Homo sapiens: one gene and its partner. The protein of the gene in region 1 purifies or fractionates together with the protein of each later gene. This does not show direct contact. Each region holds a gene or a part of one and is shown in the gene's direction. Other genes may lie near its edges.

Region 1 (4,445 bases):
TGGGGAGTGGCAAGGAAGAGATAATTCTGGAGGTGGAAAAGACACTGACCTTGGCAAGTTCCAGAACCTGCGTGGGTGCCGGTTGCTTCCAAATGTGGGCTGGAAAAGAAGTGGGAGCTACTGAGGCCCTCCCCTTCTGTTTCCCTGAGTGGCACCTAAAGGAGTGCCCCAGACCTGTCAGACCCCAGAGCCTGCAGGGGAATCTGCATTAGAAGAAGGGAGGGGGTAGTGTTTGGAGTTCTACAGGCTAGTGGGTGAGGGCCAATCTTGCCCTACTGACACTCAGGCTAGGCAGCCACTCAAAAGGGAAACAAGCTCTCAGGAGAGAGGACCCTTAAGCACTGCCCTTGGGTGGAAACAGGATTGCCTTGGGACATCTGGAGGCTCAACAGCAGGAAGGTTCTCTGGACCCTCCATCATCAGCACAGCCCTCCTCCTACCTTCTCCTGGGGCAAAGCCGGTTCCTGGCCTTTATCCCTGATGAAGCCTTGAGTGTGTGTGTGTCGGGCAGAATTCTGTCTACCCTTCGACTGGGAGCTCCAGGAAGACAGGGCTGTGCCTCTTGGACTCTCTTGGGTATCCCTGGTGCACAGTCCAATGTTTGGCACAAAGTTAACACTCAGTATGTATCTATTGAACGGATGTCTTTGGACACTCTCAGTGGACTAGAGGTCTGGGATTCATCCCTCATCTTTTCTTCCTGCCAGTCATCCTGCTTGGCCCAGTGTGACTGCCGCCTTCTGGGCAAGCCCTCCAGTGGAGCCCTCTGTTTAGATCTCACACCCTACACTCCGCTGCCCCCGTCCAGTGCTCGCCCTCCTCCCCCGCAGCCACCCGCTCCCGGAGTGGCATCAGCGCAGAGCCGCGGCCTTGCCTGGCGGTGCGTCCTGCCCTCTGCAGCCCGGGAGGGCAGGCGCAGCAGAGTCCCGCGCGCAGTGGGTTCTCAGCTCACCTGGGGGCGGAGGAAGTGAGCAAGAGTCCTCCAGACTGGGGCCAGGGGGCCAAGGCAGTCCTGGGAAAGGGGGTCTGGGGCGGCCCGCGGACGGGGCGGGCCCAGGCCGGCTGCCTTCCCCTTTGCCCTTCGACCCAGGAAGCCGCCCACATCCAGCGGACACGCTCGACGGGCTGGGCTGCTCAGTCCCGGCCTCGGCCCCGTCCCCATGCCGTCCCCCACCCCTACCCGCCGGCCCGACCCCCACCCCAACCCCAGCTTCCCGCTCCGACGGCCGGGAGAGGCGGGGCGGACGGGTCTGAGAGTGGCGAAGGACACTCTCCACACCGAGGGTCACTTGCTCTTTTTTCCCCTCTGTGGCTAATTTATTTTAGAGCCAGGGGCGGGAGGGGGCGGGGCCAGCCGGGAGGGTGGCAAGGAGGGGCTGGGCGAGCCCAGGGGAGGTGGGGGCGGGGCGGGGGCGAGGTGGGGGAGGGCGGGGAAGAAGCCGGGGGTGGAGGGGCCAGAGAAGGGGCGGGAGCTGGGGGAAGAGAGGGGCACTAGGAGAGGGAGGAGCAGGGAAAGGGGAGGGGAGGGAGGGCCTGCGAGGGAGGGCCCTGGGGGCGGGCGAGGGGAGGCGGGGGTGGGGGTGGGGGTCTTTCCTGCGGGGGGAGCCGGGGCCGCCCCTTGTCCGGCCACCCCCACTGCCCAGTCCCGCTCCCGCCCGCGGCGGCCGCAGCAGCCGCAGCAGCAGCGGCTCCAGGATGGTGAGCGCCACTGCCCCCCAGCCCAGGCCTGTCGCCCCCGGCCCGCGCCGCCGCCCCGGTCCCCGGGCCGGACGCGCCCCCAGGCCGCGCACACTCACCTAGGACCCGGCCGTGATGCCGAGGTACGGGGCCGCGGGCGGGCCGGGATGGGGCGGGGGGAGGTGACCGTTCGGTCAGGGTGTCCGGAGCTTTGTCCGCCGGCCCGGGGCCGGAGAGGGCCGAGAGGGCGGGGGCTGCTAGTCGCGGGGTTCAGCTCGGCGGGGGTCGGAGGGCAGGGCCGGCGAGAGACCCTAGCGGGTACGTGGGAGCCGAGGGTCACTTCTCGGGGGGAGGGGGCGGGCAGAGCAGGGGATAGCCGCCCGGCCGCCGACGGGCACCCGTCTCGCAGCCCCCTCTGGTGCGGGGGCTGCAGCGAAAGCGAGCAGCCGGCTCGGGGGCGTCTGCTGGCCTGGGGGTGGGGAGCCAAGGTTTGCGGGTTCGGGTCCCAGAAGGATCCAGCGTCCGGAGCCCGAGGGCCGGCCCGCAGGCCCCTCCCACTCCGTCAGGTCTTTGTCCAGCGGCCCCTGTGTGTGTGTGTGGGAGGGGTGGGGGCTGGGTTACTGGCCCGGAGATTCCCCAGCATGGTGACGGGGCAGTGACAGGAGGCCGAGGCTACTTAGGGTCCCCGCGCCCCTAACACCCACCCTCTTCATGTCTTCTCCTCTGGCCCGGGAGAACAGAGCCCGCGTCTCAGAGTCAGGGGGTTGTAGGAGGCTGTACTCACCTTCACCCTGGGGCTACAGGCAACAAGGGGGACCCCCGGAGCGCCCAGCTCTCCAGAGAGGGCCCCTCAAACTTCCCCACCGCAAGAGCCCTCTCCTGTTCTACACAGAGATTCGCATGCTAGCAACCCCCCCGCCGCTGCAGAGGGTCCTTCGCAGATTGCTGAGCACCCTGTAGGTGATCAGCAAATGCTGGTGCCCTTCCCCAGCCCCGCTGGTCCCCCTGCCCCCGCCAGAGGAGGAGGCCTGGGAAGGGGTCTGCGCGGGGCAGAGAGCGCGCGGCCTGGACCCTGCGCCCAGCGGCGGCCCGGAGCGCAGGGGTGGGTGGACGGGTGGGTGGGCTGTTAAAGGGACGGTCACTAAATCAGGATTAGGCCGTAGGGCTGTCAGGCTGCCGGCCCTGTCTCCATGGATACCTAATTTGGAGGAGAATAGAGGACTGAAGAATGTTTGTGTTGTCCGCACGGGCTGTGGCGGCGGAGCGGTCTCCTGCTTTCCGCCCGGCAGCGAGGAGTGGGGACCCGGTTCCAGCCCAACTCTGGGCTTACGGCGCAGGTGGGCTTCCCGGTTCCTGGGCCGTGGGGCCTCCCCTGTGGAGCCGCCCAGTCTCTGGAGTGGGCTGGGCCCGCAGATGCCACGGTGCGAAACCCTCTGACCCTGCAGAGGGAGTCCCAGACCCTCCCGGAGCCTACCCCGAAATCCCATAGCATCCTCCTAAAGCCTCCCCGAGCCTCTCAGTCCGGAACCGACGCCATTCCCCGCTGTGCCTGAGCCCCCAAGGACGGGCGCGCCGGGCTGCCCGGTGCTGTGGTGCCGCCGCCACCCAGCTGTGGGACGCGGGTACCGGGCGGCCGCGCGAGCTGCGGGCAGGGGGCGGGGCGGGACTTCCTGGGGTGGGCGAGGAAAGGGGCGGGGCTTGCTGGGGTGGCTGGGCTGGACGGGTGACAGGCCTCGTAAATCCCCTTTCCCATGTTTAACACCATTTCATTTCTTTCCACTTGATTCCATTGGCATCCAAGGCAGACGGGAGCGACCCTCGTGTCCTCGCTGTAATATCTTCTGGGCGAAGCCCTTTTGGGCCAAAGGGAATTAGGCTGTGTGGGGCAGAGGAGTTGCTCCTGGGGAGGCCTAGAGGACCCGCATTCCTCGGGGGGATTCCTGTTGCCCCCACCCCCGCCCCAGAAGAAGAAACAGAAGGGGCTGAGAGACACAGAAATGAGTTTGGCTTCGGAGGCCCTGCCCGATTCTCTGGCCGTGGTATGGCTGAGGGCTGGGCTGAGGATCCCGTAACTGTCAATTCCAGTACCAGCCTGGGCGAAGGCTGGGGAGAGCCACCCAGACTGAGTGTGGCGTCGCAGAGCCCTTTCCTGCCTTTCTTCTGCTCACCCATGGCCACAGCTTTTTATGGATCAGGACTCCCCTCCCTGCCCTGCCTGGGCCGCAGCTTTATTGCTGAGATCTAGGGCTCTCTCCACGCAATTTCACGCCTCTCTGCCTTTGCTCCCGCTGTTCCTCCAGCCAAATGCCTTCCTCATTGTCCCTGTCTTTCCACAACCTCCTTATTCTTCAGGGCCCAACTCGGATGCGCACCTCCTCCGCATCACCTCCCCAGCCCCGAGCTTCTGTCACTTGCTCCTCCCTCCGTGGCCTGCACCTGTGCTCCCTTCCGCCTTTGTGGCGGGGTCCACTCAGGGCTTTGACTGAAATGGAGCATGTACTCCCTGGCCCTGCCCCCAGTGGGCTTGCCACAGGGCTTGACACCTTGTGGGTGCTCCATAAATATTGGTTGGCTGAATAAAAGGGGTTTTGTAAGGGCCTTTAGCCAGGCAGTCTGCATAGCATGGAATCTGGCCACCTTCAGGTAAACAGCTCTGTGCTCTTGGGTGGTGGAGACCCCTGGGTGGGGCTCCTCCTCTCCCTTTCCCTTATTTGCCTCCTTCTCCTCCCCATGACCCTACCCCACCCCCCCAAGTCCGGGGAGGACTT
Region 2 (4,345 bases), on another chromosome or scaffold:
CACCCACAGCTCTTTCCCACAACTACGCCCTCCTCTTGCAGGCGGCTCCTCCAGAAGCTCTAACCCAGTTCCTGCTGCAGCCCCACCCTGCTCACCCTGCATCTCCAGTCCCAGCTCCGCCTCCTCTAGCCCCGTCCCGCTTCTCCTACCCCTCTGCCCACCCCAGCACCTTTCAGCTCTTTCCTCCAGCTCTGCACTAGCTCCTCCCCCACCATTCTCACCCGCCAGCCTTACTCCAGCTTGGCTCCCCCTTCTCCAGCAATTTCCCGCAGCCCCGCCCCATCTGCTCCCACACCTCTTTGCCACAGCCCCGCCCTGCTCCTCCTCCAGGAACGCCCGGCTTTCCCTCAGCTCCACGCTGCAGCTGAGCTGTGCACCAGGCCCTCCCACAGAGCTTTCTCGTGATTCCACCCTACACCTCCCCAAGCCCCCGCTCCCCTAAGCTGGTTCTCAGGAGTCCGAGGGGTCCTCCCGCAGCTGCTCCTCGCTCAGTTCTCCCATTGCCCCGCCCTGCTCTTCGCGGGGCTGCTTCCAAAGCCCCGACCTCAGCCAGCAGTTTCTCTCAGCCCCGCCCCTCCCTGCCCCGCCCCTCCCCTCCCTGCCCCGCCCCGCTTCTCCCGCGGCTGCTCCCAAAGCCCCGCCCTCGGCCCCCTCCCCAGCAGTTTCTCTCAGCCCCGCCCCACCCCGAGCCCCGCCCGCAGCCCCGACCTGCTTCTCCTGTGGCTGCCTCCAAAGCCCCGCCCCCAAACCTTCCCCAGCATTCTCAGCCCCCCCAGAGCCCCGCCTCTCCCAGCCCCGCCCTACTTCTCACGCAGCTGCTTTAAAAACCCCGCCCCCAGCCCCTCCCAGTGATTTCTTTCTCCCCCTCCCTCCTTCTCTCAGCGGACACCTGCCTCCCCCTGCTGATTCTCAAGAGTCCGCGAGCTCTTCCTGCAGCTTCTCCTCGCTCAGCTCTCCCACGGCCCTGCCCACAATGGTTTCTCTCAGCCCCGCCCGGCCCTGCCCCACACCCCGCCTCTTATCTCAGCCCCGCCCTCAACCCAGCCCCCAATTGTTTCTGTCAGTCCCGCTCGGCCCCTCCCCCAGCTCCGCCCTCCTCCTCTCAGCCCCGCCTCCACCCCCTCCCCAGCGGTTTCTCCCAGCTCCTCCCTGCTGGTATAGCAGCTCTGGGCCCAAAACTCCTGCCTGGTGTCCTCGTCCCACCCTTCCACTTACTCTTCCTCCCTCCCGTTCCTTTTCCTCCTTCCGGTTCTTCGTCGAGGCTGCCGGTCTCGAGGTCCCCTGGCCTTGGCCTGGTTGGCTGGCGCGCATCAGGGCCAGGTAAAGAGAATAGCGTCTCCTAGCAGCCAGGGCGTGCGTACGTGCGTGATGTCGTCAGTGCGTGTCTTCGAGAATGCGAGATTCATAATGTTTGCTGTCTATATGCATGGCTGAGTACGTGCCTCCCGCGTACGTGCGTGGTGTGCATACATGCGTGATTGCGCGCCCACGTACGTTCTTCGTGAAAGGGATGACGGGAGCTGTATGAAAGCGGAAGAGTTATAGACCGCTAACACCTGTCACTGGCCACTGGTTTCCCGGAGTTAGCGGCAACGACCTTGCAGCCTGGACACTAGCCAGGCGCTCCCTCTTCTCACAGCGGCCCACGTCTCCTTGCTTGGGAGCCCATCGTCCTGGCTCCGGTGGCCTCGCTGGGTCTCGGGGAAGCAGAGGACTGTTCATTCCTGTGGCGAAAAGCCGGAGTCGGCCCTAGACACCCACGACTCGCAGGGTCCATGGTTCCGGAGGCCGTGAGACCTGCCGGGGCTGACAGGTGCCAGGGCCCATGCTGCGGGAGCCTGTGTGCTCAGCCTTCTTGCGGACGGTACCTGAGGGCTGGGGTTTCCCTGGATGTGGGGCTGGGAACTCGTGCGGGGCGCGACCGAGGCGCCTTTTCCTGTCCCCTGCTGTCGGCAGGGTCTCGGCTCCGCTCCTTCTAAGCGCGTGTACCCGCGACGTGCGTCTGCGAGTAGAAAGCCCGTGTACTGCTCCACACACAGCGGCCCCACCTCAGTCCGGTCTTCCCTGCCTCCCGTTGGCCCTTCTGCTGTGAGCTCGCCTGGACCTGAGGCCGGGCGGTGCACAGCTCTGTGGCCTGTGGCGCCGTGCTCAGCGTGACCTACCCAGAATTAAGCTGAGGACAATGGGATTTAGAGTCCCAAACACTCGCCCCGTGACAATGGGAGGGGAAGTGTCATTTTTCTCCCTTCGAATGGAGCATGCTTGGCTGCAAGAATGCTGCTCAACATGGTGAAATGATTTTCTGCCCTGCGGGCTGGTGCACCCTGTGGTCCTTGACCCAGACAGGTGCGGAGGGTCCCACTGCTGTGATTAGCAGAACCAAACTGTGATGTGCACATGTGTGTTACTGATAAGACCAGGCCTCCCAGCTCTTCTTGGTTTCCAATGCCTGCTAAGTACATGACCTTCTTAGGGCCATTAACCAGCTTTGCTGTCTTGCACTTAATGACCTTTCCTCTTTATCTTCCTTGTTGTGCAGGTAAAGAAGCTAAGTGGAAGAGTGTTTCCTCCTCTGGCCGTAAAGCAGGTACTCTCTGCAGCACCAGGTAGGAGGGGACTCAACCCCCTTCTTGCCTTTTCAGTTACATCAGTTCCTACTAGGGATTCCACATACACACAGTTGGCGTCTGTTGTGATTTTGTGGTGATGACGAGAAAAGGGTTGGCTAAGAAACTGGGCGGCAGAAAAGAGGCAAACATTCACTGTAGCCATTTATCCCGATGGAAGTGGCCAGGCCCTGTGGGGGACATTCAGCCTCCATCAGAAGTAATCCAGAACCAAGGAACCTGGTTATCTTTGGTCACTCATCAGAAGAATAATCATGCTCAGGGGCCACAAGTGTGTGAGGAAATGGCACCATGGATGGGTTGGTGGAGGGTACACGGGTGAGTCTTTGTGGAAAGTCATTTGCTGGCAGATATCAGCATCTTAGATGGGCGTGCCAGGCGGCCGAGGCATTTCCTTCAGCATGTCTTCACACAGCGAGTGTTAGAGGTAATGTCATTTCTAGTGGCAAAAGTGGGAAGCAACTTGTAACTCTCCATCAGTGGAGGAATGGTCAGGCAAATTATGAGACGACCAACAATGGGATATCACCCAGGCAGTGAAAAACAAGGTAGATGAAGATTGTCAGGTGGAAAGAATGGGCTTGATGTGCTGTCAAATGGCAAACTCGTGCCCTAGCCTGTGCAGATGTGTTGGGAACAGCAGTTTGCCAAGATGGCTGAAACAAAGGACCATAAAAGGGCTGGCTTAAAGAACAGACAATCATTGTCTCGCAGTTCTGGAGGATGGAAGTCTGAAATCAAAGTGGTGGCCAGGTTCGTTTGTTCTGTGGGCTGTGAAAGACAATCTGGTCTGTCCCTTTCTCTTAGCTGCAGGCGGCTGGCCGGCAATCTTTGGCACTCATTAGCTTGTAGAAGCATCTCCCTTATCTCTGCGTTTATCTTCTCATGGTGTTCTCCCTGTGTGCGTGACTGTCTCTCAAATCCCCCTTTTCATAAGGACGCCAGCCACATTGGATGCGGGTCCGCCCTGATGGCTTCAGTCTCACTTGATTGCCTCTGTAATGACTCTGTTTTTATATATAAGGCCACATTTTGAGGTGCTGGGGTTTAGGACTTCAACATACGCATTTTAAGAGGACACAATGCAACCCATCACAACTGACAAAGGCTCTGAGGTAGAAACAAGCTTGGCATGTTCCCTCAGGGGATGGAAGGCCTGTGTGGCTTCAGGGTGGTGAATAAAGGGGAGAGGAGAGGACGTGGCTGGGGTGGGAAACCAGATCAGGAGGGACCTTGAGTGCCCTGAGAGGAAGTGTGGATTCTGTGCTAGTTGGGGCAGGGAGCCCTTGAAAAGTTTCAGTAGAGGAGTGACATAATCTCATTGTCCCTGTACCAAGATCATTCCGATGGCAGTGTGGTCACAAGAGTGCAGAGGACAAGTGCTGGGGGGGGGTGGGGGTGCTATCAGGAGACTTCTTCAGAAGGCAGGGGGTTTTAGGGGATTGGATTGGGATTGTGGCCATAGAGATTATGGAAAGGGATCAGATTCAATGTCGGTTTTGGACACAGTGCCACGGGATGTGGGCCGCAGATGTGGGAAAGAAAGGCAGGGCAGAGAGCAGCTAGGTCTGGGGCAGGAACGCTGTAGCTGGTGATGCCACTCACAGAGGTGGAAGGGAGGTGGACTTGGTGGTGATGGTTGGGGTCCTGAGTATGTACGGGCCTGTCCACCTAAGGCTGAGTCTGAAGGGGGGTGGCCTGCACCACGGGATTCAGAG

Evidence for each region.
Region 2: the proteins of FIGNL2 (region 1) and EOLA1 purify together in Homo sapiens (affinity purification with mass spectrometry; one large-scale study listed by BioGRID and IntAct). This does not show direct contact.

The regions. Positions count from the first base shown.
Region 1 is NC_000012.12:51,845,915-51,850,359, reverse strand, and holds the start of FIGNL2 (fidgetin-like protein 2), read left to right. Parts: upstream 1-1,641; 5' UTR 1,642-1,820; exon of another isoform or gene 1,821-2,137; intron 2,138-2,779; exon of another isoform or gene 2,780-2,905; coding exon of another isoform or gene 2,906-3,014; intron 3,015-4,445. UniProt on the Homo sapiens protein: Microtubule-severing enzyme that negatively regulates cell migration and wound healing. In migrating cells, targets dynamic microtubules (MTs) at the leading edge and severs them, thereby suppressing motility.
Region 2 is NC_000023.11:149,539,480-149,543,824, forward strand, and holds the start of EOLA1 (protein EOLA1), read left to right. Parts: upstream 1-1,532; 5' UTR 1,533-1,825; coding exon of another isoform or gene 1,826-1,864; exon of another isoform or gene 1,865-2,258; coding exon of another isoform or gene 2,259-2,346; intron 2,347-2,539; coding exon of another isoform or gene 2,540-2,606; intron 2,607-4,082; exon of another isoform or gene 4,083-4,345. UniProt on the Homo sapiens protein: May play a role in cell protection during the inflammatory response. In epithelial cells, negatively regulates IL6 production and apoptosis through the regulation of MT2A expression.